2 separate regions of the Homo sapiens genome follow, and region 2 is linked to region 1. Evidence: fine-mapped expression QTL. Tissue or cell type: whole blood. Region 1 holds a variant in brackets; the other region holds the start of a gene. All regions are shown on one strand. Distances are between the middles of the regions.

The links. PIP is the estimated chance that this variant, and not a neighbour inherited with it, causes the effect.
Region 2: it holds the start of CHD8, and the variant in region 1 is fine-mapped to the expression of CHD8 in whole blood (INTERVAL, PIP 0.91).

What each region holds. Positions count from the first base shown.
Region 1 is chr14:21,414,846-21,420,072 of GRCh38, reverse strand. It overlaps CHD8 (chromodomain helicase DNA binding protein 8), which reads left to right. Exons shown (of 38, transcript NM_001170629.2): 6 at 4,166-4,348; 7 at 4,431-4,499; 8 at 5,080-5,135. It also overlaps the pseudogene EIF4EBP1P1. Among named protein-coding and RNA genes, the nearest start is that of SNORD8, 20 kb to the right of the region's middle. The variant TG/G (reference allele first, on the strand shown) is at 2,221.
Region 2 is chr14:21,453,184-21,458,410 of GRCh38, reverse strand. It overlaps CHD8 (chromodomain helicase DNA binding protein 8), which reads left to right and starts at 2,288. Exons shown (of 38, transcript NM_001170629.2): 1 at 2,288-2,379. LOC124903283 (a long non-coding RNA gene) reads right to left here and starts at 2,014. Exons shown (of 2, transcript XR_007064064.1): 1 at 1,934-2,014. RefSeq lists enhancers at 888-1,439, 1,716-1,765, 1,776-1,825, 1,440-1,991, 1,856-2,545.

The sequences.
Region 1 (5,227 bases):
CATGTCCCACACCTGCCCAGTGTGATAACTTTCATAAGGCCTAGCTGGTGTGATTCCTCCCAGAAAGGCCTGGAGGAGCCCATAGGCAATGCGCAATCTGATGGCTGGTCCTTTAAATGTCCATCTCAAATTGTGATTCCTCACGGCCCGACTACTTACCTTCTGGGCCATTGCACAGGTGGCCCTGGCTGGCTTCTTTTGGGGGCTCATCACTGGCAGGGCTGGTGACCCCAGGAATGGTGGGCAGATCCCTCGGGGATGTTTTGGTCATGGGTGAGTTCCGACACTCCAGGAATTTCTAGTCGTAGATGATCCTGGTACCTCCCAGGGTGGTGCTGAAGACTGTGCCCCTGGGGGGTTGTCCTGTAGCTGCATGCCTTTGCCCAGCACCACCCAGTGAGTGGCAGGGATGGCCCAGCTCAGGGTCTGGCTGCAGTTGCTGTCCCTAGACATGGTCTCCAGTGTACGGCACCCAGGATTATTTTTTTTGTTTTCTTTTATTTTTATATTTTGGAGACAGAGTCTCACTGTCTTGCCCAGGCTGGAGTGCAGTGGCACGATATCAGCTCACTGCAACCTCTGCCTCCCGGGTTCAAGCAATTCTTCTGCCTCAGCCTCCGGAGTAGCTGAGACTGCAGGCACATGCTGCCACACCCAGGTGATTTTTTATATTTTTAGTAGAGACGGGGTTTCACCATGTTGCTCAGGCTGGTCTTGAACTCCTGAGCTCAGGCAGTCTGCCCGCCTCGGCCTCCCGAAGCGCTAGGATTACAGACATGAGCCACCGCTCCCGGCCCACCCTGGATTATTTTAAACCAAATCTAAGTACTTGTTTAAAGTGTTTCCTAAATTTTTTTTTTAAAAAGGTCATTTTAAGAATACTATATGATGGATGTGATAAAAATCAAGTCATCCAGAAATATATTAAGTAAAAAGTAGAAAGTATCTTCTAGAAATTGTTATTCTCTAGAAATAATTTAGTTTATATATCCTCCCAGACTTTTTAAAATGACGTAGAATATACATATCATAAAATATGCACAAATTTTGTTTGTATAGTTTTGACAAATGTATCGAAGTTACTTCACCAAGTGAAGAAAATGTTTCCATCACCCCAGTAAGTTCCCCTGTACTCCCTTGTAGTCAGTCCAGTTCCTCACTCCAGGGCATAGGCAGCTAACTGCTGTTCTGCTCTCTCTTACCTTAGATTAACTTAGCCTATTTTTGAACTTTATTTATTTATTTATTTTTTGAGACGGAGTCTCCCTGTGTCGCCCAGGCTGGACTGGAGTGCAGTGGCGCGATCTCCGCTCCCTGCAAGCTCCGCCTCCTGGGTTCATGCCATTCTCTTGCCTCAGCCTTCTGAGTAGCTGGTACTGCAGGCGCCTGCCACCACGCCCAGCTAATTTTTTTATATTTTTAGTGGAGACGGGGTTTCACCGTGTTAGCCAGGATGGTCTCGATCTCCTGACCTCATGATATGCCCACCTTGGCCTCCCAAAGTGCTGGGATTACAGGCGTGGGCCACCGCGCCTGGCTATTTTATTTATTTTTTGAGACAGGGTCTCACTCTCACCCAGGCTAGAGTGCAGTGGCGTGATCTTGGCTCACTGCAACCTCCGCCTCCTGCATTCAAGTGATCCTCATGCCTCAGCCTCCCTAGTAGCTAGGATTACAGGTGCACGCCACCATGCCCATCTCATTTTTTTGTATTTTTAGTAGAGACAGTGTTTCACCATGTTGGACAGGCTGGTCTTGAACTCCTGACCTCAAATGATCTGCCCGCCTTGGCCTTCCAAAGTGCTGGGATTACAGGCGTGATCCACCGTGCCCGGCTTTGAACTTTAAGTAGTATCATACAGTATGTACTTTTGGGTCTCACTTCTTTCAGCATAATTTTTTGTTGTTCTTTTTCTTCTGCCCACACATCAATGAGAAAGGCATAATGTTTTTGATAGTTCATCTATGCTAAATAAATGAGTAGTTTATTTTTTTCTTCAGTAATATTTGACTTTATGAATATACAAACGTGACTTTGTAGGAATCTGTTAAGTTTTCTAAAGTGATTATGTTATTTTATACTTCACCAGTAGAGTTCTGGTTGATACACATCTTCAACATTTGGTATTATAAATCTACCCCATTCTTTTTAATGTGTATATGTGTGTGTGTGTGTATATATATATATATTATATATATATATATATTTTTTTTTTTTTT[TG/G]AGAGAGTCTCACTGTGTCTCCCAGGCTGGAGTGCAGTGGCGCGATCTCGGCTCACTGCAAGCTCCACCTCCCAGGTTCACGCCATTCTCCTGCCTCAGCCTCCCGAGTAGCGGGGACTACAGGCGCCCGCCACCACACCTGGCTAATTTTTTGTATTTTTAGTAGAGACAGGGTTTCACCGTGTTAGCCAGGATGGTCTCAATCTCCTGACCTCATGATGCGCCTGCCTCGGCCTCCCAAAGTGCTGGGATTACAGGCGTGAGCCACCGTGCCCGGCTATTTTTATATTTTGTATAAAATAGAGACAGGGTCTCACTGTGTTGCCCAGGCTGGTCTTGAACACCTGGGCTTGAGTGATCCTGCCACCTCAGTCTCCCAAAGTGCTACGATTACAGGTGTGAGCCACTGCACCCAGCCTGCACTCTTTTTTAGTAGTTCTGTAGTATTCAGTTTTAAGGCTATAGCATAATTTATTGAACCAATCCCCTGTTGATGGGCCTTTAGGTTTTTTCTGGTCTCCTACTCCCACAAGTAATGCTCCAGAGATTTGTGCACATATGCAAATTTATAGGATAGTATCTTTGAAGTGGAATTGATAGGTTCAAAGGGTGTTGCCAAATTTTTCTTCATGGAAGTCGTGCCTATATGTACTCTCACCAAAAATGTATGAATTCTTACTTAAAAATATTTTGATCAAACTTGCTGATTTTTGCCAGTCTGTTGGGTGAAACAAAAATATAACATTTTTAAATATAAAATTATATTTGTATTGGTATAAAATTAATTTTATACTAATGAAGTTTGCTCACTGCAACCTCCACCCCCCGGGTTCAAGCCATTCTCCTGCCTCAGCCTCCTGAGTAGCTGGGACTAAAGGCATCCGCCACCAGGCCCGGCTAATTTTTGTATTTTTAGCAGAGCTTCACCATGTTGACCAGGCTGGTCTCAAACTCTTGACCTCAGGTGATCCACCTGCCTCGGTCTCCCAAAGTGCTAGGATTACAGGTGTGAGCCACCACTCCCAGCCAATTTAGTTTTGTAGATAATTAATCTTTGTGTTTTCATAAATGGGATCTTTTATTATATTTTCTGGCTGATTATATGTAGAAATGCTATTGATTTTTTAAAAATTAGTTTTATACCATTCAAGTTTACTAGTTTCAGTAGTTCTTTCATTTGATCCTTTGAGGTTTTCCAGAGAGATAATCATAATTGAAAAATAAGGCCTGGCTAATTTTTGTATTTTTAGCAGAGACGGGGTTTCACCATGTTGGCCAGGCTGGTCTCAAACTCCCGACCTCAGGTGATCCGCCTGCCTCGGCCTCCCACAGTGCTGGTATTACAGGCATAAGCCACTGTACCAAGCCTCCTTCCCAGTTTTTTATCATGAGCTGGAAGTGTTGCTTAAATTACTTAATTAGAAAATGTTTAATTCAGCCACTTGAAAGAATAAGGTAAATAAAAAATATATATGGAAAACATTTCCAGGAAATATCATTAAATAAAAAAGTAAGTGGCAGAATAGTACATACAGTAGATTCTGTTTATTAAAACAAAAAAAACTTCAGAACTAAGACAAAAAAGCAAAAAATGGAAACAAAATCTTCTTGCATTTTTGCACTAACGGGTTGCTTCTAGTGTGAATTATATTGCACCCTGCAGCCTGAGAATCCAGTTTTGATTTCCCAGAGCTTCTTGCCACTAGTGGACAGGTTTTTCTCAGTGGATTCTTGGCCTTTCATAAAGCAGTTAAGCAAATTGATATATGGTCAGTACATAGCATAATCACATTGTTTGACAGATAATCTCCTTATCATCTTTTGGTCTGATTTTTCATGAAAATTTTGGAGTAGAATCTAAGTATATGACCATGAGCAAATAATTTTAAAAGTCTTCTCTGTGAGAGACCTAACTAGTCACTCTAACTACTTTTTGCTCTACAGAAGAGACGCTCAAACCGCCAAGTTAAGCGAAAAAAATATACAGAGGACCTGGATATAAAGATCACAGATGATGAAGAAGAAGAAGAGGTGGATGTAACTGGTCCAATAAAACCTGAGCCTATCCTCCCTGAACCAGTGCAAGAACCAGATGGCGAGACTTTGCCTTCCATGCAGTTCTTTGTGGTAAGCTGTAAACTCAAATGATTTCAGAGGATTGCCTTGCTGGTCACAATCATCTGTTGACTGACTGCATCTTTTGCTGCAGGAGAATCCCAGTGAAGAAGATGCAGCCATTGTAGACAAAGTGCTTTCTATGCGGATTGTGAAGAAGGAGGTGAGGGCTTTTTATTATTATTATTATTTTTATTTATTTATTTATTTATTTATTTATTTATTTATTTTTGAAATAGAGTCTAACTGTGTTACCCAGGCTAAAGTGCAGTGGCTATTCATAGATATGATCGTAGCACACTATGAACTTCTGGGCTTGAGCTATTCTTCTGCCTCAGCCTCCTGAGTATCTGGGACTACCATTGTGCACCACTGCGCCTGGCTTTTCTCTATCTTAATATTAACCCGTAATGCTATGTTCACAGGCTTTATTTAATGAGCACCTTTGGATGTCAGATATATTGCTAAGGTGTAGTTGTGAGAGATGATGGAGGAAAGTTAGCTAGAAAACAGGAACTGCTTTACTGGTGCTTCTTTTACTTACCTGTTTAGAGTGGATAAAGGCTTACTTTTTCCAGCTATCAGGCCTCTATTATTGAAGTACCAGACTAGTTCCTTAATCTCTGAGTTATTAATATATTCAGAGATTATTGGTATGAAGTTCTGCAATGTGTGGTTAAAATTAAAAAGTTCATTCTTTTACAAATAAGGGACTAGTGACTAATTTATTTCTTTTTTCTTAGCTCCCTTCTGGACAATATACTGAAGCAGAAGAATTCTTTGTCAAGTACAAGAACTAGTACGTGATCTGTGCAAAAAGCTTGTCACCCCAAATTCCACAGGGTGGTAAAAAGTTCTCCTGGGTATCCTGGGTGGGAATGTGTCCCTTTT
Region 2 (5,227 bases), 38 kb before region 1:
GAAGTGGTCATGAAGAATTATAAAAAGTGGATATGCCACCCCATATGAAGAATGGTAGTTATGAAATAATGTCCACTTTTTTTTTTTTTCCATCTATAGTCTTACCAATGTCCATTGGTTTTTGAAGGCCAAGACCATTGGAAATCATACTAAGATCAGTGTAGGTACCAGAAATTGGTTCAGGCACACCTGTTCCCATTTCCATAATATCTATAGCTCCTTTGATGACAGGTCTATTCTGTACCAGATGGATAATAGGCTCTCATCCTAGAAACTATTAATAATTAAGGTTATATCTGTATATGCATTTACAGACAAACACATTGTTCTGATAAATCTTAATACTAACATCAAATTGATATAATGGCAGCAGTAGCCAGGAGAGAATTTGGTTGACAGATTTTTTTTTTTTTTTTTTTTGAGACAGAGTTTCCCGCTTGTTGCCCAGGCTGGAGTGCAATGGCATGATCTAGGCTCACCACAACCTCCGCCTCCCGAGTTCAAGTGATTTTCCTGCCTCAGCCTCCTGAGTAGCTGGGGTTACAGGCATGCACCACCACACCCAGCTACTTTTGTATTTTTAGTAGAGACGGGGTTTCTCCATGTTGGTCAGGCTGGTCTTGAACTCCGGACCTTAGGTGATCCACCCGCCTCGGCCTCCCAAAGTGCTGGGATTACAGGCGTGAGCTACCGCGCCTGTCTTGGCTGACAGATTTTGATACACAGGGAAATGTATTTGGCCAAGTCTTTTTTTTTTTTTTTTTTTTTTTTTTTTTTTTTTTGAGATGGAATTTCGCTCTTGTTGCCCAGGCTGGAGTGCAGTGGTGAGATCTTGGCTCACCACAACCTCCGCCTCCTGGGTTCAAGCGATTCTCCTGCCTCAGCCTCCCGAGTAGCTGGGATTATGGGTGTCTGCCACCACGCCCGGCTAATTTTTTTTTGTATCTTTACTAGAGACGGGGTTTCACTATGTTGGCCAGGCTGCTCTCGAACTCCTGACCTCAGGCGATCCACCCGCCTCAGCCTCCCAAAGTGCTGGGATTACAGGCGTGAGCCACTGCGCCCAGCTTAAGGCCGAGTCTTATCACTCATATGACTTCTTGATGTCTCTGAGCTCCTATCATGTAAGACCATGCAATTATGTTACTCCTTGAGAAATTCCTTTAATAATCTGGAAGGATTCCCTCACTCACAACTTTAAAAAAGATTTCTTGGCCAGGAATGGTGGCTCATGTCTGTAATCCCAGCACTTTGGGAGGCCGAGGTGGGCGGATCACTTGAGGTCTGGAGTTCGAAACCAGCCTGACCAACATGGCGAAACCCCGTCTCTACTAAAAATACAAAAATTAGCTGGGCGTGGTGGCGGGAGCCTGTAGTCTCAGCTACTCAGGAAGCTGAGACAGGAGAATTGCTTGAACCCGGGAGGCAGAGGTTGCAGTGAGCCGAGATCGCCCCACTGCACTCCAGCCTGGGTGACCGAGCGAGACTCCATCTCAAAAAAAAAAAAAAAAATTAGGCCTTTAAAAAAAAAAAGGAATTCCTCCTTAAGTCCTGTTCTTGATTTCCAACTGATTCACAGTGCCCCTACTGGAAAATTTGCAGTGAATCCTAAAGCTTAGTAGCACCTATAATAGATACATGTCCTGATATTTTGAGTGAGGTGTCCATAAAGGATTACCCTAGGAAAGTGCAACTTTCACTCTCATTAGAAGAATTAATTTTTGCTTATTTGATTTGTTAAAATTGCTTTACTCCTACAGTTAAGTGAGAGGGTGGTGGTGGTTGTTGCCCGTAACCACATACGGCATTACTCCAGGGTTTCACGTCGTGACTGAGGGGCCTCCTAAGTGTATACAGCAGAGTATGTTCGGGCTGGACCTAGATAGTCGGACAGAACACCGACAGGGTCTTCACATTCTTTAAGCACTCTCACCCAGTCCCGGAGTCCGAGCCAAGATGGCTTCCCAGAAGTAGGTAACTAAGTGTTGTTTTAGTTCACAGCGCCCCCAATGGCGGGGGTCAAAAAAAGATGCCGAGGGGCCTGGCCGCCTGTGAACTGAGTCGTCAGAGGCGAGCCGCCGCCAGATTTTATTTTCAATCAGGCATATTTGTGGTCGCCTACGTACCCTTCTCATCCTCCTAGGACCTTCCACCCTCAAGAGACTTCCTGGATGGCGCTCACACTAGCTCGCTGGAAGAGGCCGGGCTTCGGTGCTGCCATTGGCGGATGGGAGCGCAGGGGGGCGGAGCCTAGGGAGAATGGACTACTAGCAAGCTAGATTGAGGCGAGGGCTGGCCATGCTCCGCCGGAAGGCGCCTTGTTCTCGGAGAGGGTGAGTTGAAACGCTGCCTGGAAAGGAAGTACCAGGACTTGCACAGGTAGGCTTCCCGCTCGCACCCGCTCCTCAGTGCTGGGCCAGGAGTCAGCAAAAGCTGAGGCTCTCAGAGATTTGATTTAAGTAACTCCTTCTCCTCTCTCTTCCACCCCCTGCTCGCCCCCCAGTTGTGAGGGATCAGGTGCGGGGTGATGCTCCGGACTGAACCAGTCTCCTTTGTGAGAGGCCGGGGGAGAGGGTGGCTGCCGGGCCGCGGGGTCCGAGCCGGGCCGAGCCGCGAGGGACTGCTTGGGACGCTGTGGAGTTTTCAGGGCTTGTCATTGCATTACTGGGCGTAGTGTAGATTGGAGGCGGCGCCTTGTTCTCCTCTCTTCAGAGAAGGGAAAACTCCTCGGCCCCGTTTGGTTACTCCATACTTTGGATTCAGAAATAGGTGGTTAGGGTTTTCTACTTCTTTTTATTTTTTTTTCTTCTGTATTTTAATAATAAAGGTGGGTAGGAAAGCATGGGGTAAGCGTAAGCAGATTGTTACTCATTCTCAGGTGTAAGTTCTGTGGGTCTCCTGGCAGTGAAGAGCAGGCTGTTGGAGAATGTTTAGAGATGGTGGGAAGAGAGGAGCTCAAGCCTTGCATCCTCCTTGACAGGTCTGCAGAGCTCACTGGTTTTCCGTTGCATTATGTAAACTCGTCACTGATAGAAGACCCTTCCCCCTGCTTTGGAACGAATGCAGTTTATTTACCTGTCTCTAGTGTCGCAGGGAATTTCCCTGCAGCAGCTGTATAAATGCAGCAGCCTCTTGCTTTTTAAGGGACAGTCTTGAAGCGGTTAGGGTCTTCACAGAAAAGGTATATAGTGGACCCATCTCTTTCGTATGGCTAAGCAAAGTGAGCCAGAAGTCAAAGATTTAGAACTCTGTCTTTTTCTATTAAAGAATAAACAGCGGAGCGCCCCAAACACAAGCCAGGGGAGCTGCCTTATCAGTGTCTGCTGCATCCTACCATCACAGCGGCGTCTACAGATCGTTTCATCTCCATGCTTTTCTGAGTTTGTCGACTCAGTCAAGGATTCTCAGCCTAGGTTAGCATATGCTGAAGTCATCTGGTGTGGGGCACATTACATATCGAAAGTGAGTTTGTGATTTGAATCGTGTCCTGTGTTAGTTAATTAGATCGTGTCTTCTGCTTAGGAATTTCTTTTGTATTGGTCATCCAATAGGTTTCAGAACAAATTCTAGTCAACCTCATAGAGCAAGATATGAGAAACTTATTTCAAGTACTTTGGAATTATCCCAACCCTTAAAAAAAGAGTTATGATAAGAAAAACATTTTCCATGTAAGAAGACCTTCTGCTGCAAGAGAGGCGTGTCAGTGGATCTGAAGGCAAGTGAAAGATATTGGCCAAAGAGAGAGTAGGCAAGTTTGAAGAGACAGGCTTAGGAGAAAGTTTAAAACTGAAATAGTGGCTCACGCTTGTAATCTCAGCACTTTGGGAGGTGGAGGCGGACGGATCACTTGAAGTCAGGAGTTCGAGACCAGCCTGACCAACATGGTGAAACCCCGTCTCTAAAAGTACAAAAAATACAAAAAAAAATTAGCCGGGCATGGTGACGCGTGCCTGTAGTCCCAGCTACATGGGAGGCCAAGGCATGAAAATCGCTTGAACCCTGGAGGTGGAGATTGCAGTGAGCCAAGATCGTGCCCCTGCATTCCGGCCTGGGCGACACAGCCAGAGGATAGCAAAGGAGTAATGGATTGGGATAAGGGATATAATGGAACAGTGTATGAGTACTTGAACAGTTTTTGTATTCTCCATGTTTGATCTGTCCTGTGCATCTGCTCTTTTGGTTTTGTCAGTTTTCTTTTCTTTTCTTTTCTTTTCTTTTCTTTTCTTTTCTTTTCTTTTCTTTTCTTTTTTTTTGAGACGGAGTCTTGCTCTGTCACCCAGGCTGGAGTGCAGTGGCAGGATCTCGGCTCACTGCAACCTCCGCCTCCCAGGTTCAAGTAATTCTCCTGCCTGAGCCTTCCGAGTAGCTGGGATTACAGGCGCCCGCCACCATGCTTGGCTAATTTTTTTTTTTATTTTTAGTAGAGACGGGGTTTCACCATATTGGCTAGGCTGGTCTTGAACTTCTGACCTCGTGATCCTCCCGCCTCGGCCTCCCGAAGTGCTGGGATTACAGGCATGAGCCACTTTTCTAAGCAAAATTACCACTTAAGATTAAGTTGTGGGTGTCAAAACTGTGTTTGCTTACTGAAGAAATAAGATTTGATATTCTCATATGTGAAAGGACTGTAACATTCAGATGAATGCTAAATGCTTTAGTGAACTGTTTGTCTACAGCTCTGGAAGAGTTAAGCTATCTTCTGAGCTTACATTGAGCCTAATACTTGGGAGGAAAACAGAAGACAAACATTTCTCTCGAGTCTCCACTTTCACCTCTAGAATCTCTCTACTTCTGGAGTTGGATTTGAGCCAGTCCTTGATCTGCAGGTCTTCGCATGACCTGTCCTTACATTACTGTGACCATTGTGGTATAATATTTACTATTTTACCTTTAGCATTTGATTCATTGACAGACTATCATGTTTCTTATCTCACTTTAACTTTTTATATCCCCTCTTACATGATCTATGATCTTTTATTCTTTTGTCTCACCAAGTTGGTGATCTTTTCATCTTCCTGTGATTTTGCTCACTTTCCTTTTCACTTAATTCACTGACGTTGTACACTTTTGCTTCTGTTTAGCTGAAACCTTTTAGGGAATGTAATTTCTGTATTTTTAGTAGAGACGGGGTTTCACCATATTGGCCAGGCTGGTCTTTAACTCCTGACCTCGTGAAAATTGAAACCTTTTAGGGTATCTAATTTTCAAGATGTGGTCTTTCTTTGGT